3 linked regions of the Homo sapiens genome follow. The protein of the gene in region 3 binds, or shares a complex with, the protein of the main gene of each other region. Each region holds a gene or a part of one and is shown on either strand. Other genes may lie near its edges.

Region 1 (7,434 bases), on a different chromosome or scaffold from region 3:
ACAGGGATATAGGGGCTGGAGACACTTAGTAAGCTCCTCCCACAGTTATGAATCAACCTTGGACCACCAGAGCCCTTCTCTGATGTGAGGTCCTTCCCCTCTTTTCTGCTGCTGGCTTCACCCCAGCCCCTGTTCAGAACCAAGTAGGAGGAGGACATGGTACCCAAAACATTAGGACGGTAATCCCATGAGCTAATCCACTTTCACTATGGCCCTTATTCCCTCTTCAGCAGCCTGACAGCCTGCCCATGTCAGTGTTGTGGGGGACCTGGGAGCTGGGTATGTGGAGCTGGCCCGTGAACAAGGGGAGCAGACAGATCCCTCCTACCTCGATGCTGGGGCAGATGGTCTCTGACCCACAGCTGCCCCTCCATGAAGGAACCACAGCCCAGAGCACCAAGGGCTATCCATCTAGGAGGTGGTGGTGAGGGGAGGGAGGGCCAGCATTTCTGACTAGTTCCCTTAGCCTCTCCCCTCGGCTCATGAAACTTACACTTTGGCTTGCGAAGGGGTACTGGGTGTACCTCAGCAGTGATGGTTTTAGGCAAGAGTAGCTGTTCCTTTGAGCCCCAGTCTTCTTCCCATTGCTTCTTAAACTTCTCTTCCTCCTCTACAATCCTAAAATGAGACCCCCATGCCTGTTACTGGAGTCAGAACCCCCATAGGCCCATCTCCTGCATATCGGAGAGCCCCAGCCAGCCTGGGGAGAAGCCTCATGGTTCTAGTCATGATGAATCAAGCAAAGTCCCCGAGCTTGTATTCTAAATTGAGTGTGAACCCCACCTTGGCAATTATACGAGACTATGTTTCAGTTACTATAATATGACAGGCTTTACTACAAATAAAGGAGGACCCACCAGGGGATGAGAGAACCAGGTAAACTGGTTCTGGAGGCAGCCTCTGGTTGGCCACACTCCCCTGAGCACACTGATGTTCATGCACAGACACGCGTGGAGCCGAGGTACTCACTGTTCCATCTCCTTCCGGTATCTCTCATTTTCCTCTGCTGCCTTCTGGGCAATTTCTTTTCTCCTTCTGAAACACAAATGCAGATTGGCATGTTTGGCCCTATGCAAGAGAAATGAACTCTTCCTTACTGTGAATTCTTGATTTGGAGAAAAGTTGGATTTTTCTCCAGGCTCCCTTCCTAGGAGGCCTGGACCAGCTTTGGTTTTGGGGGACGTTATCTAACAAAGTCTGGACGCTGTGCTCTTGCGTGGTTTTGTCTGGCATGGCTGAGCAGAGATGCTGGGCTGTGGGAGGAGGGAAGCAGATCCATGTGAAGGCCACACTCCATGCACCCTCCTCCAAACACTTAGGTAAGGTGACTGATGACAGGCGGGGCCTGGACTGACCCCAGGAGCAAAGCAGGGGCTCCTAGCCAGGTGGAATACTCCCAGCTAACTCTGTGTTGGGGGAGATGGGGACAGCCTTTCCTCTTTCCTTTTCAAAATACATTAATTGATTGATTGATTGAGACAAAGTCTCACTTTGCACCCAGGAGTTCAGTGGTGCGATATCAGCTCACTGCAACCTCTGCCTCCCAGGTTCAAGTGATTCTCATGTCTCAGCCTCCCGAGAAGCTGGGATTACAGTCGCATGCCACTATGCCCAGCTAATTTTTTTTTGTATTTTTAGTAGAGACACAGTTTCACCATGCTGGCCAGGCTGGTCTCGAACTCCTGACCTCAGATGATCTGCCGGCCTCGACCTCCAAAGTGCTGGGATAACAGGCGTGAGTCACTGCGTCCAGCCATGAAATACTTTTAAATGCCTAAAAGGTATTTGGATTTGGATCTTGACAGTAGTTTTTGATTTATGAATTGCTCACCCCATTTATTCTCTTAGGCCATCATTTCAATCCTCCTGGACAAGGGTGAGCTTCATCACTATAGGCAGGGCAGCCCTGTGGGGACTTGCCAGATTGCCTGGGGGTGATCCCAGCTTGGCCACGTGTGACGTTAGACACAAGTGGCTTCACCTCTCTGAGTGTCAGTCTCCACACCTCTAAAATGGGGTTAATACTCTCTACCTCCCAGGGCTATTGTGGGAATTAAGAAACATAAACAAGGCCCTAATACAACACCAGCCTTATGGAGGTACTTGACAAATGTTAGCTGGTAGCTAATCCTAGCTAGCTAGAGCCTACTGCTAGTAGGATGCTTATTTTCCATATTCTTGGAATGTTGGAAGACAGGGGGCTCTGCTCAGCAAGGAGGAAGGAGCCAGGTGGTCTGAGGCCAAGGATGGATACGCTGACCTACCACCAAACTCATCTGGTCTGAGGACTGGCCTCCAGGGAGGAGGAGGAAGTTGGCTGGGGACACAGCGGGCAGGAAGCAAGCTAGGTGGGGTCGTGTGGTGGGGTGGGAGGCGGGACAGGGCATCCAGGGCTGGCTGCACTCACTGCCGCTCCATCTCCTGCTGCTCCTGGAGGATCTTGTTGGACTCCATCGCCAGCCGCTTCTGCATGAGAAGCTCCTGCCGCTGCAGCTCACGCTGCCGCGCCTCTGCCAGCCGCTCCCGGTCTGTCATGAACAGCTCCCGGCCCTCATGGGAGAAAAGAGGCCCCTTGCTCAGCCCCCGGGGAACCTGGGGATCCCCTGACACACCCCTGGGGGCCGAGATGCAGGTGGTCTTCTCAGCACCATCAGGCACTGCGGCTCCCGCAATCCCTGACCCAAACTTCTTGCTGGGCAGAAGTCCTCTCGCTCTGCTCTGTCAGAGCTTCAGGGAAGGAGACCAGCCACCCTGGGAGTGTGTGGCAGAGATCAAAGGTCAGAGGGGCTGGGGATGAAGGTCAAGGGGCTCCCACCAGCTCATTCTGGACTTACAGCTGCAGCTACAATGGAGATGGTCAGGCTGCGGCTACTCTTCAGCACATTTACAGCCTGTGGGGACAGAAGGACAGTGGGCCGAGGCCTGACAGACCACAGCAGTCCAGGCAGAGAGCACAGAAGGCCCCAGGCTCCAGGGTGGTGGGGATGAGAAGTGGGGTGTGGAGATGACAAGGGCCAACAGGTGAAGACCCCCACATCTCACCTCCTTGTGATCCAGGTTAGAGAAGTCGACGCCATTGACTTCGACAATCTGGTCCCCTATCTGGTGGGGAAATGGAGAAAGATTAGTGTGTTTGCGCTATCTGTACACTCGCTCATCTGCAGGACAGGCTCCCCCAGGGGCTCTGGGTCAGATGCTGGATCTTCAAGTGGCAGTACCTCAGCTCCTCCTGATGAATGGAGCAGTTGGAAAGCTCTGGTGGAGCTCTGGGAGGGCTTAAAGCTGACCCTGGCACTCCCCTACTTCATAACTATCTTATCAACTATCAAATATTATACCATTACATGTTCATTTCTTTGGCTAAATTTGATGACATTTGCTTTAAAAATCACAGTTTGCAGATGCGGGAACCTTTGAGCTTCTCATTTAGCACAGGCTGTGTTGAATCGTCATAACAGAATAGCTAACATTCACTGATCACTTACAATGTGCTTGGCACAGCTCTAGTATACATATTAATTACTTTAACCCACACAACAACCTTGGAAGAAAGCCTGTATTATCCCCATCTTACAGGTAAGCAAACAGACATGAAGTAACTTGTCCAAAGAAGAGGTTAAGGGTTCCTGCTTTGGGATTGGACCACCTAGGTTTGAATCCCAGCCCTACCATATGAGGTACACGATTTTGGAAAAATCATATACTTTCTCTGGGTCTCAGTTTCCTCATATGTAAAGTGGGGATAATGGTGGTACTTAACCCTCAGCATTCTTGTGAAGTGTAAAGGGCATGGAACAATGTCTGATGCAAGTGGACACTGAAGGTCCGCTCTTTGATTACCATTACGACATTCCCAAGCTCGTGACCAACAACTATCAGAGCTGGGGAAGGCTGCAGAAGGGTCAAACATCCCCAGTCTGTGAAGCCTTCTCTGCAGGGTGGGTAGGGCTCCTACTCCCTCAGTGTCCACTGAAAGAGGGCCATGTGGAAAGGCACCTGCCCCTGTCACCGCGGGATCACAGTCTGACCCAATTTCCAGTGGGCCCCCACTGGGGCCGGCCCAGCGTCACTCACCTCCAATCCCACCTCAGCAGACAGGGAGCCAGGTTTCACATGGCTGATAAAGATGCCAGGCTTCTGGATGGGGCCGCTGGAAATGCTGCGGGAGGTGGGAAATGTGTGCTCGGGATTCAGGTAACCCATGTCCAGTGCTCAGGATACAGGTCACTCATGAGCTGAGGACTGAAGGCCCTTGACTGCCTACCTCTTCAGCCTCTGTGTCCCTCTCCAGCCTGATTTCTACTGCTACCCTGGGCAACAGCCACAGAAAAATCCTTGTAATTCTTCCTACCCAACCTCTCACCTAATATACCTCATATGCTGTTTCTTCTTTCTTTCTAGCACTTTCCTGTCCATCCATTAAGACTCAAATGCTATCCCTTCTATAAGGTTTTTACCAGATCCTCTTATTTTTTTAAATTTATTTTTTAGAGACAGGGTCTTGCTCTGTCACCCAGGTTGGAGTGCAGTGGTGTGATCATAGCTCTCTGCAACCTCCAACTCCTGGGATCAAGCAATCTTCCCACCTCAGCCTAGCTGCGACTACAGGTGTGCACCACCATGCCTGGCTCAGATCCCTTATTCTATCCCAAGACTAAACTAGCCGCTCTGTTCTCAGTGCTCCTATGACATTTACGGCAAGGATGGTACATGTACTGTTAGTATTCCTTCCTAGATTGGTGGCAGAAGTCACTCATTGATCACAGCACTCTTTCCCACAATCCTGGATACAGCTTTAGAATGCTTTTCAAAGCAGCACTCCAGGGAGCTGCTACTCATTGACTAGAGATGGCACCTATTTGCCATCCTGGACGCAGAATGTAGTCCCGTTCGAGTCCCTATCACCCTATATTATAACTATTTACTTGGTTGGCTTCTAGATTAGGCTGTTGTCTCCCAGAAAGGTGGGACTTTTTATCACTTGTGCTTGGCACAAAACATTGAATAAATGTGAATGAAAGGAAAGAACAGGGATAACTTAAATAATAATAGCTAATATTTACCAACTGCTTACTATTTAGCAGGTACTAAGTTTGGCACTTTACTTTCTCCACAACCACCCTGTGATGTGGGAATTATTATCGCCCATTTATAGAGGGAGAAACTGAGGCTCAAAGTGGTTAAGTAACTGGCCCAAGGTTCCAGAGCTCTTAAGTGGGAAAGCAGGGCTGGAACTGGGATCTGAGTAACGGTGGCACCTGCATGCTTAAGCCCCGTGTGGCCCAGTGTCTGTTCGGAATTCCCTGTCTGCCTCTTAAGGAAGCCAACAAGTTAATAAGTGACAAGAGAGCTGTGACAGAGATGACCAGCCAAACAGGCTCCTTTTGCAGTGACTCAAGGGCCCACAAGGTAACACTGTTCTGCCTCTGGGCCTCAATTTCCTCATCTGTAAATTGGGCTCTGTTAGAGATGACCCTCTGGCCCTAAAGGCCTGTCATGAAGTTCAGAGGGGAAATCAGGCACCAAGAAGTGTCAACACCAAGGCTGGGTGCGGTGCTTCATGCCTCTAATCCCAGGGCTTTGGGAGGCTGAGGTGGGAGGATCACTTGAGCCCAGGAGTTTGAGACCAGCCTGGGCAACATAACAAAACTCCATCTCTACAAAAAAATTAAAAGTTAGCTGGGTATGGCAGTGTGTTCCTGTAGATCCAGCTACTCAGGAGGCTGAGGTGGGAGGATTGCTTGAGCTGGGGAGGTTGAGGCTACAGTGAGCTATGATCATGCCACTGCACTCCAGCCTGGGCAACAGAGTCAGACCCTGTATCTAACAAAAAAAGTATCATCACCCATGGACAGTCACACCCCTGGTGGGCAAGGTTTCCTCGGAAGTGGCAGTGAGGAAGGGGAGGGCAATAGGGGCCTGCTGGGGTGCACTGGCCACGAATGACCCCAGGGCATGCCTGCCACCCACCTGCAGCCAAGGCCTCGGGAGCCTACCAGGCTGATGAAGACCTTCTTCTCCTTGTTTTCCCGATTTCCAGGGGAGCCCAGGCTGCCTCGCACGCCCTGAAAGAGAGATAGAAGCAGAATCACGGAGTGTCCACATGCGTGCAAGCGGCCTCTTGAGCTTGTGGGATCTGCAGGGCGAGCACTGCTGAACTCACGCCAGCCAGATCATCATTCCGTCCCTGGGGATGTGTCTGCACCAGCTGGGCCTGGCCGAGGGCTGCTGCCCCACAGCGGTGTGCTGGCTGCCCTGGGAGCCTGTGTGAAGCCCCTGAGGGTGCATCTCTAGAGCAAGCCCTCCCTTCAGGACCGGCCACCCCTCCTTGAAGATGACCCCACCCAAACCCCATCACAGGAGGTCTGGCCCTTACCCCAGATTCCGACACAAACTGATCCACATACTGCCAAGTGAGGGGCTCATCAGGAGAGCTGATGGGAAGGGAAAATAGATGGGAGGGTGGTTAGCGAGAGACGTTTGAGGAACCAGGCCCCACATCCAGATCCACCATGTCTAGAGCCTCCAGCCTCCACTGGCCCAGAAGCAGGGCTGGCATGGTGGGAGCCGGACCCCAGGGCTGTACCAGGATCCTGGGCCCACAGGGAAGAGTTGGCCTGCAGAGGAGGGGCCTCTCACCTTTTCACGGGGATCAGGCCGATGTCTGCGGGAGAAAGGCACAGGGGTTAGGACAGCTCCCCCGCCCTCCCTCCCTCCCACCGTCATGGAGTACTGACCTGCTCCCCCGCCCTCCCTCCCTCCCACCGTCATGGAGTACTGCCCTGCTCCCCCGCCCTCCCTCCCTCCCACCGTCATGGAGTACTGCCCTGCTCTGGCCTCACTCACGTCTCACTTTGATGGACACAGTTTTCTTGGTTCGAATGAGGTTGATGACCTCCTCATGGGTACAGGAGGAGATGGAATATCCATTGATCCGGACGATCTCGTCCCCTACCTTGACCACAGAGAGAGGCAGGGAGCACCAGGTGGAGGGAGCATCAGGCAGTGGGGCAGACTCACCACCAGATGCTCCCGGACTGCTCTCCGGAAAAGGGAAGGGTGGCTGTGCCACCCCCTGGAATAAGCCTTGATCTCAACCAACCCACCCTCCATCAGCCCGGGGGATCCCAGGTTCAGGTGGCATGTCCAAGCAGTCTTGTCGCCCCATTTTACAGATGGAGAAACCAAGACAGGGGTGAGGGGCACAGCGGGTGTGCAGCAGAGCTGGGAGAAGATCTCAGAACTCTCTGCACCCTCACTCTAGTGCCCCTTTCACTCCACTGGGGCACCATCAGATTCTGGATTCTATGCAAAGGGTGACATTTCACTCAGCTTTAAGCTATTCTTACCGGGACTTTGTCCCAACCCACCCCTAGGAAGTTGGCTCCCTATCTCTGTTAATTGCTACAACACTGTAACTGAGTCGGGGTGGGG
Region 2 (7,434 bases), on a different chromosome or scaffold from region 3:
CACCACACCCAGCTAATTTTTGTAATTTTAGTAGAGATGGGGTTTCACTATGTTGGCCAGGCTGGTTTCGAACTCCTGATCTCAAGTGATCCACCCACCTCGGCCTCCCAAAGTGCTGAGATTACAGGCAGGAGCCACCATGCCCGGCCGTCAGCGCTATATGTTTTAAATAGCTGATTCTTCACTCACTTTGTATGTCTGTGAGTGCGTGTGTGAGTGTGTGTGAGTGCGTGTGTGAGTGTGTGTGTGAGTGCGTGTGTGAGTGCGTGCGTGAGTGTGTGTGTGTGTTCCTGTCCTGCCAGGGCCCTGAAGGCATGCTTGGTTTGTCTTTGGGGTGAACCAGTGTGGATAACACAGCGGGTTCCTCTGTGCCGCCAGGCCTTTGCAGGTTCCGTTCCCTCACCCCGATGCCTCCCACACCTTCCCTGCCTGACTCCAGGCCAGGTTGGCGCTTCCTCTGGGCCTCAACATAGCACAGGTGACACCGCTGGGTGACTGTCTGACGCCCTCTTCCTAACTGGGAGCCGCCTGGGGGGCAGGAATGGTGGTGGACTCATCTCTGAGGACTCAGGGCCCAGCCAAAGACTGGGTAAGTGCTCAGCAAACGTGGCCTTGAATCCAGAGTGGGACCACTCCGACTCAACCAATTCTTTCCTTCCTCCCAGCCAGTCTCCACCTTCAGCTCCTCCATTTCATTCTGCTGGGACCTTGTTTATTACATGCATCCTTTGAAAGCAGCTGGAGATGTTTATTTTTTCCAAAAGCCTCATCCTGTCTGCTCATCCTTTGGTGCCCTGAACTCAGGCCAGTTAATTCATCAAGTGCTCCCTGGGGCTCATGCTGGGCACCACGGTTACAGCAGCCGACCAGAAATGCTCCTGCCCCAAGGAGCTCACAGACCAGGGGAGAAGTGCCAAGCAGGAAGGAGGAAAGGCCAAGGCTTCAGGGCCAGAGAGGTCTGGGCTGCAGCCCCAGCGCCATCATTTACTGGCTGTGTAACCACAGAAAATCACTTAACCTTTCTGAGCCTGTTGTCTCCTGAGAAATGGGAACTATTAGACCGCCTGCTTCCAAAGCTGGTCAAGAGATCAGGGATAGGAACATGCTCTGGAAACTACACAGTCCTGGAAAGACGGGAGGGCTCTGTGGCCACCAGATTGTCACTCTGAGGACCTGGTTTCTCACTTCTCACAAGATGCCTCAGGGGCGAAGCTTCCGAACTCCTCAGGACGAGGGAGGAAGCTACTCCCCGGTGTTTCTCTGGAGTCACTAGTGGGTTTTTATCTCATGAACTCTGTGAACCTGGCCACTGATCTCATTTCCTTTTTTGCTTTGGCCACCATGAAGCTCAGATCAGAATTTGCAGCTCACTCCAAGCAATTCTGTAGCACTGGGTTCTAATTTTACCTTGTGCCCTTTAACAAATGCCACCTTTATTTTCTCTTTTTTCTTATTTCTTTCATATTTTTATCTTACTATTTATCTAAGCCACCTCAAGTCCTTTTTGGAGTGGGGCAGGTGGGTAAATAAAAAAGAAGTGTATGTTTTTGAGGGATTTCTCTGGCAGGCCCAGTGCTGAGCTCCTCACACAAGTCATTAAATTATTCCCCAATGACCCTGAGAGTAAGGCTATAATTTTCTTCATTTCCTGGGAGGAAACAGAGACTCTGAGTGACTGTCTCAGAGCCACACAGCGGAGCCCCGACTTTACCCAGGGCCAGCATGCCCACAGAGCAGGCTTGGTCCCCTCCCCCAGCCTTACCCACCAGGTCCAGGCAGGCTCACACCTGGATGGTCACGGAGACATTGCCCTCCTCCTCCTGGACGAAGATGTTGTAGGAGCCGCTAACCACGGGTGCATTGTCGTTGATGTCCAGCAGGTGGATCTGCAGTGTGGTGGAGGAGGACAGGTTCCCGCCGTCTGTGGCCTGCAGCGTCAGGTAGTACACGGCCTGGCTCTCCCGGTCCAGCAGCTCACCGTTCCTCACCGTCACCGTCCCTGAGACGGGATCCACTTGGAAGAGGTCTGCCCTGCTCAGAGGGGCCAGGTTCAGCAAATAGAGACACAGGATGCCCATTTCAGTGTGAATTTCAGATATACAACAACAAATATTTCAGCATATCCCATGCAGTATATGCAACATATTCATTATTTCAAAAAGTCATTCCTTGTTTATCTGAAATTGAAATGTAACTGAGTGCCTTCGGTCTTCCCCAGCTATTCTATCTCTGCAGAGAGGCAGAGAGGTGGGCCTGGGCCCTGCTCACCCACCTGCCTACGGCCCACCCTGAGCCCTTACCCATTTCCTGGGAGCAGGCTGTAGGTAATTTGGCCCCACGCGCCCGTGTCTGGGTCCGTGGCCTGTGAGGCAGAGACATGGCAGGGTGCTGTGTGGAGGCGATGCACGCACCGCCACCCATGCAGCTCGTGGGGACAGAGCTGTCGTGCTTCCTCACACAAAGGGAGAATCCCCAGCACACTCAGATTCACTCATGGCCACCCCCATCTCACACATACACACACACACACTCTCACACTCACACATGCACGCCCGCTTGCTGGGACCCCACAGCCCCACTGTGTCCACATCACTCACGTGGATGCTGTCGGTGACCACAGAGCCGGTGGCGCTGTGCTCTGGCACCGTGAGGACGTACAAGCTCTGGGGAAACGTGGGCCTGTGGTCATTAATGTCTCTAAGGTGGATGGTCACCATGGCGACGGAGAAGTTCTGGCTGACGGAGTCTGTGGCCACAACCTGGGGGCAGGGGAGGAGGCAGCAGCTGTGGGGCCCAAGTGCCCCTCGGCTTCTGCCCCTGGCACCCCGGAGCAGCCCTCACCTGCACCGCCATCGCCGTCTGCCTCTCGTAGTCCACCAGCGCGGATACTCTCACCAGCACCTGAACGGAGGCTGAGCCCACTGCCCGCTCCGGGGAGACGCTGAAGGCTTCTGCATCGGGGCCCCCCAGCGACAACAGGAAGGTGCCATTGCTGCCCTGTAAAGGTGGGCTGTCTAGCAGGGACCTGTCCCCCTGCTCTGCCCACCTGCATCTTCCCCCAGTCCCCAGGCTTCTATCTCTGGATGCCCCGCCCGATGAGGTCCCATGGAAGGGGGCTCTCAAAAGACTGCGAGAGAGGGTGCAGGAGGCTGGGCTGGTCACCAGTCCCTGCAAATGCAGGCTCTGTAGAAGACAGCTCCCTAGGCACTGTGGGTCCCAGACCTGGGCTGGAGCCTGGACACACACCCCTCACTCCTGTCAGCTGTCCCTCCCACCCACCCTTCACATCCCCCACCCCCAGCCCCCACAGCAACACCAAACACCACTCACACCCTACGTCACCCCACTGGCCAGTGCCACCCTTCTGGCCAACCTAACCCCACCCGACACTGTCCTCCACGCAACATTTCCAACCCCTCAGTATCACCTAACACCATACACCCTCCAGAGTTACTCATCCTCCAGCGCCACCGTGTTACCCACCTCTCACTGCAGCCTCCACTTAAGAGTGCCTCCCATGGCTGGGCGCGGTGGCTCACGCCTGCAATCCCAGCACTTTGGGAGGCCAAGGTAGGTGGATCACTTGAGGTCAGGAGTTCAAGACCAACCTGGCCAACATGGTGAAACTCCATCTCTACTAAAAACACAAAAATTAGCTGGGCGAGGTGGTGCACACCTGTAATCACAGCTACTTGGGAGGCTGAGGCAGGAGAATCCCTTCCACCTGGGAGGCAGAGGTTGCAGTGGGCCAAGATTGGGCCATTGCACTCCAGCCTGGGTGACAGAGCGAAATTCCATCTCAAAAAAAAAAAAAAAGAGCACCCTCCCACCTCACACCCTCAGACCACTTGTCCCAACACTGCTCAGCCTCCCCCAGTTCCCAGGACTACCCAAATCATGGCCGCCCAATGCCAGGAGACCTCGCCAGCCACCCATCACCACGGACAATGATGTTCTACTCAGCATCATCTGACGTTCTACGTCAGCCTCCACTCAGCATGGCCTTCTATTCAGCCCCACACGGATCGCCCAGAGGATGATACTGCTTACCAACACAGGCTTCCAGAGAGCACCCAGCACCCCCATTCTCCGCCATCACACCCTGCACCACCAGCACCGCCACCCAGCACCACATGACACCGTCACTCGATCCAGGCTCCCACTGGCCTCCCCCAGCCACCCCCGCCCACACCCACGCCACCACGCCTGCCTTGTCCGGGTCGTAGACCACCATGGTGAGGTCATCGATGGGGATGCGGGGGGAGGCATGCTCGTCCACGTAGCCAGTGAAGTTCACTTGGGCCTCTTCGGGGGTGAAGGTGCAGGCTGGGAGGCTGCAGTTGTAAAACTCAGGTTTGTGGTCATTGACGTCCATCACTCTCACTGTCACCCAGATGCTCACCTTGGCCTCCTGCCCGTAGATGTTGAGGTGTGTCTCGGTGGCCTGAGGCACAGAGCAGAGGGCAGAGGGCAGAGAGCCAGTGCTCAGAGAGAGAGATCAAAGGCCAGAGGTTAGAGAGCAGGGTTCTGACAGGGGTGGTGGGGCCTTTGCTCACCGTGACCTGCAGCTGCACCTCCTCATCCGCCTCCAGCAGCTGCTCACGGTCCAGGGAGCCGTTGACCCTGATCACCCCATCTGCCCCGATGTCAAACCAGCCGGGCCGCGTGGAGTCTGGCAAGGAGAAAGGCGGAACAGCTGGAACAGCTGCTCCAGTGGCTCTGACGGAGCCCCAGGCCCATTGCCTCCAGGGACTCTGACGGAGACCCCACCCTGGCCCCGGCCCAGCCCTGGCCTGGGGACACCCCGTTCTCACAGGAGATGCTGTAGATCACAGGGTCATTGATGCCTTTGTCGCCATCCACAGCCTCCACCGTCAGCACCGAGGTTCCCTGGAATGGGGCCTGGTCAGTGCTCCTCAAACTTCCCCGCCTCCCGCCTCCACCCACACCCCACAGGTCCCCCGTGCACCTTGGCTGCATCCTCAGCCACAGAGGCCGAGTAAAACTCCCTGACAAACTGGGGGTCAAGGTCAGGCTGGTCCACCACGGAGATGGACAGGAAGACAGGCAGGGAGCACTGGATGGTGAAGGTGTTGTGGTACATGCCGCCCAAGTCCTGCGGGGAGATGGCCACCCGTGAGCCAGCGCCGTGGGTCCTAGGCCCGCCTGCCGGCACCCCCACTCACACAGGCCTTCAGCTCCAGCTGGTAGAAAGCGCTCTTGTTGTTGTAGCTGAGGCTGCCATTGAGGACTATGGAGCCATTGGCCAGGATCCGGAAGAGATGCTCGCTGTCCCCAGTGCTAGGGATGACCTGGGGCAGAGCAGACTTGGGTCAGGCTCCCTAGGGACAGCCCTGCACCGAGGACCCCACTCTGAGCAACGCAGGGAAGGTCCCAGCTCTGCCACTGACCAGTCACGCCACTGGCACCAGGTCATATGACCTCTCTGAGCCTCAGTTTCCAGCTCCAGGAAATGGGGCTGGTGACAACCCTCAGTGGGTTGAAAGGAGGATCCAATAAGATGCAGTCGGCCCTCCATCTCTGTGGCTTCCACATCCACAGATTTGACCAGCACAGATCAAAACTGTAGCTAGGCTCACTCACAATGGTTGCGTCTGTACTGAAGGTGTACAAACTTTTTCCCTTGCCATGATTCCCTAAACAATATAGCATAACATGCTATAGTTACATAGTATTTGCATTGCATTGGTATTGGAGGTAACCTAGAGGTGATTTAAAGCACACAGGAGGATGTGTCTAGGTTACATGCAAATACTACCCCGTTGCATGTCAGGGACTTGAGCAGCCATGGATTTTGGTGTCCTCAGGGATCCTGGAGCCAAGTCCCCACGGATACCAAGGGGCGACTATACAGTATGTGCCAGGCACGTGGTTGGTGCTCGGTAAATGGCGCTATCAACAGCAAGTCTGTTTCCATGAGAAATGGGTTTACACACCCCTTATTGTCTGTGGAATTTGGACAAGACCTGGGAGCAGGCGGGCAGGAAGAAGGGTCTGGTCTGCAGCAGGCACCCTCTTTAGGTAAGCGGGCAAGGCGAGGTTTCCGGGGAGGGGGGCTGGTGGCCAGAGGACGGTTTGGGGACCAGGGCTGGGCCAAGGCAGGACCAATGTCCCCACCCCAACGTTCAGGCCCTGTGGGTTGTCTGTGGAGATGCTGCCCCCTGGCGGTCACAAAGGCGGTCAGGGCCCCCTTCACACTCACCTTCTCTATGGAGTACACGACCATGCCTGCAGACCCCATGTCTTTATCCACGGCCAGCACGGAGAACACCACACTGCCCACGGGCAGGGTCTGCAGGGAGGGACTCGTCACCTATGAGCTCAAATCCAGCTCCTCCTCTCCCTTGTCCGTCACTGCCCCCCTGAGCTTCAGTGTCCTCAGCTGTGCACTCATGGGGACAGGGTTCCCCTGTCCTTCCCACCAGGGCTGCGGGTGGAAGGCACCTGGGGGTGCGGGGCGGCAGAGAGGATCTCCCTCCTCCCCTCCCCACACAGCCTCTCCACCACCTAAGCTGGCTTCTGATTGTCGGAGCCCCTCAGAACCAGGATGAGGGATCATTCTAGAGCCCAGCCTCACTGTGCCACTGCGCACTCAGACATCCCATGTGCTCTCTACAGCCTATAGCCATGGGTTTCAAACAGCGCCCTACAGAGCTGGAGGCTTCTTTGGGGAGTACTCTGCTCCTGGGCCCCTGTACACACCAACTCTACCTCCTTTTTTTTTTCCTGAGATGGAGTTTCACTCTTTCGCCCAGGCTGGAGTGAAGGGGCACGATCTCGGCTCACTGTAACCTCTGCCCCCTGGGTTTAAGCGATTCTCCTGCCTCAGCCTCCCCAGTAGGTGGGATTATAGGCGCCCACCACCATGCCTAGCTAATTTTTTTTATATATATTTTTAATAGAGACAGGGTTTCACCGTGTTGGCCAGGCTGGTGTCGAACTCCTGACCTCAGGTGATCCACCCGCCTCAGCCTCCCAAAGTGCTAGGATTATAGGTGTGAGCCACCGTGCCCAGCCACGACCTATACTTCCTAATGGTGGCCACAGAGATCTTTGAAAATCATGAATCAGACCACATAACTCTTCTCCTTCAAATCCCCCAAGAGTCCCCCCATTCTGCCCAGATCACAGTCCAGACTCCTTCGAGCCTGGGCTGCCACTCGCCTCTCTGACCTGACCTCCTCCTCACCCTCCCCCTCCAGCCACACTGGCTGAGCTTGTTCCTGCCTCAGGGCTTTGCACCTGTTGTTCCCCCTGCCTGGAGCACCCCTTCCTGGAGCATCCCCTGCCAGCTCCTTCTTGCCATTCAGGTCTCTCTGTTCAGATGCCCTCAACTCAGAGAGGCCTTTCCTGACCCTTCAACCTAAAGCAGTGCCCGCTGCAGTCACTTCCTTGACTTTGCCTTGTCTCGTG
Region 3 (8,287 bases):
AAGTGCTGCCCCTAGAAGCAGATTAACCATGTTTTCTCTGGGTCTTTGGCAAAAAAGAAGTGGTGTCTGTGGAGAAGGGCTTCTTATCATTAAATAACCAACTGCTTGGGGTTCCAGATAATAGGTTGAGGTTCTAGAGTTTTAGGACAGTGCAGGAGGAAATAAGACCTGCCTGTCTAAACCTAAGTGTCAGTCAGAGTCAAGGGAACACAGAGGTCATGGACAGGATGTTTCTCTAAGTTGAGACATACTAGTAGTGCAGGAGTATGGGGAGATATGAGGAGCATGGCGAGGCTCCAACAGGAAGGTTGATGAGAGCTTTGACTTGGGGTCACTGCCACTCAGGTCCGAGCCTCAAAGTCTCTCCAGTGTGTGTCTGGCAAATATTCTTCTCTGGCCTTCCAAGAGTCCAGCTGTATGCTGATGGAACACGCTCAAATACTAATTTCCACAAGATCAGTACAGTCAAGAAAATCCACAACTGCCCCCACAATTACCATGACTCCTCACAAGGAATTAATGTCTACATTATATGCAAATTCGTGTTAGCTCTTTTTATTAATTTCTGCCCTTACCATCTCCCACCAATTTTGTTTCCTTTGGGCTTTGAGGAATTCAAAAATGATTACTGGGCTAAAACTTCCTCTGTCTGTTCCCTAAGCCACAATCACACTACTTCTAGTTTGTAAAAACATGCTTTATGGGTTGCAAGAAATTTTATTTCTTCATCTTTACTAAAGTTAGTTGATGCTGATGATAATGATGATATGATCACTAGCAACATCCCCCAGTTTTATCCACAAGGATATGGAGACTCAAATAGATGGAGTAACTTTTCCTGGATTATATGAACGCTAGGTCTTCAACCCTCCTTCCCAACCTCACCTTGAAGGGATAGGATAAGGAGGATCTTCAAGTTCAGAAAAATGTTTTAAATCCTTATCTCTGCCCCCACTTCCCCACCCCCCGCTGCCCCTGCCACCCCATTCTTCTCCCAAGGAGGAAATTTTCCCAAGGGCGTGCCAGAGGATGCCAGGATATTTACCATTTAAGAAAGTTTGGTTATTTCGCCATTTCACAGGAGACTTTAAGTTCTAGTCCTAAGGACTGCTGGAACTGAGAAATTCTTTCTCTTTCTTGTCTTCTATCTCCAATCCTTCTTCCCCATCTCTATAATTATTCTGTCCTCTTTACCCTTTGCCTCCATCCTGTGAAACTTAATCACGCAAATTGCATCATTCTTGTTATACCCAACTAAATCAGGGTTGAGAGGCTGGGTGGTGGAGTTGGGGGAGAAAGCACTCCGAGTACAAAAAATAAATAAATAAATAAAAATTGCTCCAAGAACGTAATTCTCAGCAAGACTGACTGCTGGAACTGCCTGCTGTAACCCGGGAGCAGTTTTATTTACAGCTGCTGAGATAACTTGCTGCAACTCTAGGACAAATTTTGCCCACTAATCAGAGCTTGCCAGCTCCCCAAACCCTTACTAGTGCCAATGAACTTTCTTGAAGAGCAATATGTAACATTTCTCTTGTTAATAAAACCTCTAAACTTCTCTTTTCTTCTTCAGACATACTGAAGACCACCTGGTCTATGTGTGTATCCCAAATTGCAAGTCTTTTTCCAAATAAAACATTAAATTTAGAGATTCAGCTCTAAATTTTTATTTTGACTTTGACAATCCTCATCCTAATTTGGCTTATGACCATCCTAGTGGCCACTATTCTTCTCTTTCTCTTCCTCTTCCTCATCCTTATCTTCTGAAAGCAGACCCTTTGGCTGGAGTCTTAGGATTCTACTACAAATAATACATCTTTGAGAAGTTCTCTATCGGTTATATGTATTTTTATTTTTTATTTTTTTTGCACTCTGTCACCCAGGCTGGAGTGCAGTGGTGTGATCTTGGCTCACTGCAACCTCAGCCTCCCAGGCTCAATCAATTCTCCTGCCTCAGCCTCATGAGTAGCTGGGCTTACAGGTGTGCACCACCATGCCCAGATAATTTTTGTATTTTAGTAGAGATGGGGTTTTGCCATGTTGGCCAAGTGGGTCTTCAACTCCCGACCTCAAGTGATTCACCCACCTTTGCCTCCCAAAGTGCTAGGATTATAGGCGTGAGCCACCTCGCCTGACCTGTTTTTAAATTTCAAAGTGCATTAATGAATGCAGTTGTATCTAAATTAAAGTGGCTCATGCAAAACTTGATGAAGAACCTTACCATTTTCTCACAGTATTCATAATCATGTTTGGATATGTCACTCTCTCTGGGCTAAAAACAATGTTTAAAAAAAGCTAAATAATGCTGCCCTCCAGGCTGCTTCTACTGCTCTTCACCTAGAAGCCAGAAAAAGGAACAAACAGTGACCTTTGGAGCTCATTATTATTGTGAAGAAACTGTAGATGAAAGCTTTGTACTTTTTCTGAGTGGGTAAATAATTTATCTTGGAATAAAAACTTAGACAAAAAGAGATAAGAGGAATATACAGTTACAGGCTTCAAAAATAGATATTTCTCACATCAGTTTAGTGGACAATTATCTAAATATATTAAAGATTGTGTAACAATATGGGGATATATTTATGATGGATTAAGGAGTGGAAAAGATGTAATGTAAAATTATATGTATTTGATGAAAACAATGTAAAAAATACACCACAGGAGAACATATGCATAGTTGATGAGTTATGTAAGGATGGCGGTTTCTAATTTAGTTGCAGTGTCTTCAGAGAACACGGTTTGCATGAACCCTGTTATTTGTTATTTGTCGAGAACTGCACTGCTTCTATTCAGTGGTCAGGTTTTATAAATATTCTGTGTGCTTAGAAAAAACATGCATTTACTATTGGGCACAGGGTCCTTTCTCCATGTGACTGTTAGATCAAGCTTGTTAATTGTGTTCAAATCTGTTTTTCTTCTTTTTTTTTTTTTTTGAGATGGAGTCTCACTCTGTCACCAGGCTGGAGTGCAATGGTGCGATCTCAGCTCACTGCAACCTCCGCCTCCCGGGTTTAGGCGACTCTCCTGCCTCAGCCTCCCGAGTAGCTGGGACTACAGGCACATGCCACCATGCCCAGCTAATTTTTGTATTTTTAGTAGAGACGTGGTTTCACCATATTGGCCAGGATGGTCTCAATCTCTTGACCTCGTGATCTGCACCCCCTCAGCCTCTCAAAGTGCTAGGATTACAGGTGTGAGCCACTGTGCCCGGCCCAAATATTTTATAGCTATACCAATCTTTAGTCTGATATAGAACATTATGATGATGTCTGAAATCTTCCCTTATGATTGTGGTTTTGTTTTTTTTTTTCTGTTTAATTTTTGCTTTCCCTTTTTTGCAGCTGTGTTATTTAATTTATACAAGTTTAAAACGATCATAGTTTCTTGATTAATTGTTCCTTTCATTATCATGTATTATCTCTCTTTATGCCTAGTAAATTTTTTTGGCTTAAGCTATATTTTTCCTTGCTACCAATACGGGTGCTCTTCAACTTACAATGCAAAACCACCATAAGTTGATATAATAACTCAGTTGTGAGCTGAGAAGCATACTAAATACCTGTCATTTTTGTGCCATCATAAAGTTGAAAAATTAGGTCAAACTCTCATAAGTTGCAGACCATCTATGTGGGTACACCAATGTTTTGTTAGTATTTGCTTGCTATAACTTTTCCATTTTTTGCTTTCAATCTTTCTGCAATTTTATATTTTAGATATGTCTATTATAAACAAGACATGGCTGAGTCTTCCACATCATAAATTTAGTCCATTTTCTTTTGTTTTTATTACAGATCTGGAAATTTTTTGGTCTTATATTGTACTCCTTATAGTCATTTTTCTATACTTTTTCTCCTTCCCTTGAGTTATTGATAATATGTTTAAGTTATTGATTTGAGATCTTTTTTCTTTCTCATATATGCATAAAAAACTACAAATTTTGCCCTAAGCTTTTCTTTAACTGCATCCTATAAATCTTGATATGTGGTATTTTCATTTTCATTCTGTTCCAAATATGTCTGATATAGGACTTGTATCCAGAGTATATAAATAATTCTTATAATTTATTAATAAGACAACCACTTAAAAATTGGGCAAAAAGATTTGAATAGAAGATGTAAGAATGGCTAATGGGCACATGAAAAGATGCTCAATATCTTAGTCATTAGGAAATTGAAAATTAAAGCCATAATAAGACCACTTCATATCCACTAGGATGACCATAAACAAAAAGATAGGCAATAATAAGGCTGGCAAGGTTGTGGAGAAATTGAAACCCTCATACGTTATTGGTGGAAATGTGAAGTAGTACAGCCACTTTGGAAAACAGTCTGGCAACTTCTGAAATTTAAATGTAAATTGCCATGCAACCCAGCAGTTTCACTCCTTGATATATACGCAAGACACATGAAAATATGTGTCCACACAGAGACTTGTACATCAGTGCTCATAGCAGCATTATTCATCATTACTGAAAAATGGAAACAACCCAAATATTCATCATATTCATGAAACATTGAATGGATGAAGAACATGTGGTATGTTAGCACAGTGGAATATTATTCAGCAGTGAAAAGAAAGAAACCATTACATGCTACACATGACAAACCTCAAAAAAGTATGTGAATTGAAACAAGCTATACACTAAAGACTATATATTGTAGGATTCCATTTGTCTGAAATGCCCGTAAAAAACAAATCTATAGAGACAGAAAGCAGACTGTGGTTTCCTGAGGTTGGGAGTGGAAATGGGATTGACAGCAAATGGCATGAGGGATCTTTAAGGGCTGATGGAAACTGGATTATGATAATGGGCATGCAACTCTATAAATGTCCTAAAAATCATTGAATTGTATGCATGAAATGGGTAAATTTAATGATGTTATACCTCAATAAAGCTGTTCTTTTTGGAAAAAACAGCTAGTGAACTAGAGTAGCTCTGCATTTTATTAAGAAATTATTTCTTACATCCTGTGCCTAGATGGCCAATATTACACTCAAGAAACTAATGGACATAGAAAAATTGAATGTACCTCCAAACACTCAAGATGAATACAGCAGTCTTCAATAGTCAACGTCATGGCCATTCCAGAGAGAAAAGGTCCAAGTTCAGTGCCTCGAACCTTGTTGCCTTCCGTGAAAGGAAGCAGTTGAAATGAGCTTTGCCCCTGGTGACACTCTTCCTTGTCACTAATTAACCAGCTCTATAGGAAGGTTGCTCCGCCAACACCTTGCTCTGCCTGGAGAGACATCTGGCCAAGTTCTGGTGAGCAGGAAAAATGTCTACTCGTTACCACCAAGCTGCTAGTGATAGTTACCTGGAACTTCTAAAAGAGGCTACCAAGCGAGATCTAAATCTTTCGGATGAAGACGGCATGACTCCTACTCTCTTGGCAGCCTACCATGGGAACTTGGAAGCCCTAGAGATAATCTGCAGTAGAGGGTAAGTTCAACCCGATGGTTTCTGTTGGAAACAGTGTTCATGGTAGGTTTTTGCAGACAGCAGCAAGAGGCAGGGACGTCAATACAAATACTTTATCCTCTTTCTAGATTGTCTAAATGATTGGATTTTTAGAGAAAGAGAGAAAACTATGCCTAGAGATGCTCTCTTTTCTCACTGAGGACTGGCACTATAGGAGTGGCTCATCCCTTAGCCACAATCAGAGGAGAGACCCTGAACTACGGCATTATCTGCATGGGGAAGAGGGAAGATATTTTAATTCTATGCCTTTAAAAATGCTTTTCATGAAATTTAAATAGTTTTCTCTTTTCAAAGAGGCCATTGTTTTACTTGGTTTTAAGTTGCCAACCTTGGTTGGAACAAATGACATGGTTTTAGTTTTTTTTTTATCTATGCCATCAAAATCTCACAGTCTTTTATTAACTTTCAATCCCAGTGCAAGCTCATGATTTTTTTATTTTTTATTTTTGACACAGGGTCTTGCTCTTTTGAATGGAGTTGCTGGCTCTACAAGGACTCTTTAGCCTATCTTAACTCTATCACTTCTTTGGCTAGTGGATAGATACACACACACACACACACACACACACACACACACACACCCCATCTCTTTGCCCAGATTTTAATGGAGGAGTAAGCTAGTTCCTCTGCTTGTTCTGCCTGTTATCAGAGGGCTAGGTTGTGTTGGCAACCGTAACCCAAGAGGGGTAAAGAAAGAGAAAAGGACAAGGTAAATAAAGGAGCCAAGTGAATCCAATTGAATACCCATTTATTCAGTATTTGTTATGTGCCAGCCACTTATCTCTTAAGATAAGAGATATTTTGCTAGCCACTGGGCACACTGTGATCAACAAGACAGCCACAGTCCCTGTCATAGTGAGCAGATTTGAGAGGGGAAGACAAGACATCTATGATATTTGTGTGTGTGTGTGTGTGCATGTTTGCTCTGAGACAGGGTCTCACTCTGTCACTCAGGCTGGAGTGCAGTGTCAAGATCATAGCTGACTGCAGCCTTGAGCCCCAGGCTCAAGTGGTCCTCCCATCTGAGCCTCCCGAGTAGCTGGGACAAGAGGTGTGCACCACCATGCCCAGCAATTTTTGTACTTTTTGTAGTGATGGGGTTTTGCCATGTTGCCCAGGATGGTCTTCAACTTATGAGCTCAAGCGATCTGACAGCCTCGGTCTCCCAAAGTGCTGGGATTACAGCTGTGAGCCACTGTGCCTGGCTCATCTATGATATTTGTTACAAAAAGGGAAATAGAGGGCACTAAATAGGCATCTACCTCAATCTCAGGGGTGAGGGAAGGCTTCCCTAAGGGGAAAGCATTTAAGCTGGGATTAGGAAAATGAGAACAAGTTGGCTAGACGAAAGAGTGTTTTCCCTAAGATGGAAAACTGCTCTAGTTCTGAGAACTAGAGAAGCTGAGTATGGCTGGATGTGGTTCAAGTAGGAGTGGGGTCAGGACAAGTATAAGAGATAAGACCAGATCACAAAGAGCCTTGTCAACTCTGGTAAGGACTTTATCCTAAGGGCCCAGGAAGCCATGTCTTGGGTAGGGAAGCTGCCAGAGTAGATTTATGTTTACAAAACTCACTCAGGTAGATGGATAACAGTCGGAGAGAATGTTTGGGGACTGTTTTAGTGGTCGAGATGAGTTGGACTAGGGTAGTGACATTGGGAATGGGAAGATATGGTTGGATTTGAGTGGCAGTTTGGATGTAGAATCAATAATGATTGACTGGATGTGGGCAGATAAAGGAAAAGGAGGGTTAAGGTCCCAGGTTTTGGATGTTGACACCCTTTATTAAAATAGGGGACATTTAGGAAGTGTCAGAAGAACCCAGGATTGGGAGAGTTCCTGAGTTGAAGATTGAATGAGAAAGTGAGTGAAGCAGATCTTCCCCATCTCTCTTGTCTGAATAAGACTTTCTTTTCTCAGACACATCGATCCCCATCAGCCAGCCTTCTCCAGTCATCTCATCTCTTCTCCTACTCAGCCTAGGGTTCCCCAGCTTTCTCCATCTACTGAAAGTCTACCTCATTCCACAAACTGCAAGATGTCAGTTACTTTAAAATCAAAGTATTAGCCTATTCTTGCATTGCTATAAGGAAATGCCTGGGCCTAGGTAATTTATAAAGAAAAGAGGTTTCACTGGCTCATAGTTCTACGGGCTGTACAGGAAGTATAGTAGCTTCTGCTTTTGGGGAGCCTTCAGGAAGCTTCCAATCATGGCAGAAGGAAAAGGCATCTCACATGGCAGAAGCAAGAGCAAGAGAGCAAGGGGGGAGGTGCTAGAAACCAGATCTAATGAGAGCTCACTATCATGAGGACAGTACCAAGGGGAATGGTGCTAAACCATTCATGAGAAATTCGCCCCCACGATCCAGTCACCTCCCACCAGTCCCTACCTCCAACATTGCGGATTACAATTTGATTTGAGGTTTGTTCCCCACCAAATCTCACAGATCCAAACTGTATCAACCAGTGAGTTTGTCCTCCTAGAAGAGGGTTTGGGGGTTCTGGGGTTCTTCTCAGCAGAGAGCTCTTGTTCCATTTGAGGACATTTTGAATAGTAATGCTTAGGTGTTCTCTCTCTTTCTCTCCTTTGAAAGCCTGAAATATTCTCTTACAATAACTCTTCTGCTGGTCTTTATTTATTTTTTATTTTTACTAGAGACAGGGCCTCGCTTTGTTGCCCAGGCTGGTCTCGAACTCCTGAGCTCAAATAATCCTCCTGCCTCAGCCTCCCAAAGTGTTGAGATTACAGGTGTGAGCCACAGCACTCAGCCTGGTTCTGCTAGTCTTTAATTACAAAAGTAACATGAGC

Evidence for each region.
Region 1: ANKS4B (region 3) and USH1C share a complex: the UniProt entries of both Homo sapiens proteins name them as parts of the IMAC/intermicrovillar adhesion complex.
Region 2: ANKS4B (region 3) and CDHR2 share a complex: the UniProt entries of both Homo sapiens proteins name them as parts of the IMAC/intermicrovillar adhesion complex.

The regions. Positions count from the first base shown.
Region 1 is NC_000011.10:17,520,377-17,527,810, forward strand, and holds part of USH1C (harmonin), read right to left. Parts: intron 6,956-7,434; coding exon 6,847-6,955; intron 6,665-6,846; coding exon 6,640-6,664; intron 6,435-6,639; coding exon 6,377-6,434; intron 6,066-6,376; coding exon 5,971-6,065; intron 4,160-5,970; coding exon 4,075-4,159; intron 3,103-4,074; coding exon 3,043-3,102; intron 2,892-3,042; coding exon 2,835-2,891; intron 2,551-2,834; coding exon 2,408-2,550; intron 1,036-2,407; coding exon 970-1,035; intron 619-969; coding exon 494-618; intron 1-493. UniProt on the Homo sapiens protein: Anchoring/scaffolding protein that is a part of the functional network formed by USH1C, USH1G, CDH23 and MYO7A that mediates mechanotransduction in cochlear hair cells. Required for normal development and maintenance of cochlear hair cell bundles.
Region 2 is NC_000005.10:176,572,962-176,580,395, reverse strand, and holds part of CDHR2 (cadherin-related family member 2 precursor), read right to left. Parts: intron 6,314-7,434; coding exon 6,224-6,313; intron 5,313-6,223; coding exon 5,187-5,312; intron 5,117-5,186; coding exon 4,970-5,116; intron 4,891-4,969; coding exon 4,815-4,890; intron 4,673-4,814; coding exon 4,557-4,672; intron 4,445-4,556; coding exon 4,211-4,444; intron 2,998-4,210; coding exon 2,842-2,997; intron 2,760-2,841; coding exon 2,598-2,759; intron 2,363-2,597; coding exon 2,301-2,362; intron 2,032-2,300; coding exon 1,788-2,031; intron 1-1,787. UniProt on the Homo sapiens protein: Intermicrovillar adhesion molecule that forms, via its extracellular domain, calcium-dependent heterophilic complexes with CDHR5 on adjacent microvilli. Thereby, controls the packing of microvilli at the apical membrane of epithelial cells.
Region 3 is NC_000016.10:21,228,462-21,236,748, forward strand, and holds the start of ANKS4B (ankyrin repeat and SAM domain-containing protein 4B), read left to right. Parts: upstream 1-5,237; 5' UTR 5,238-5,276; coding exon 5,277-5,440; intron 5,441-8,287. UniProt on the Homo sapiens protein: As part of the intermicrovillar adhesion complex/IMAC plays a role in epithelial brush border differentiation, controlling microvilli organization and length. Plays a role in assembly of the complex.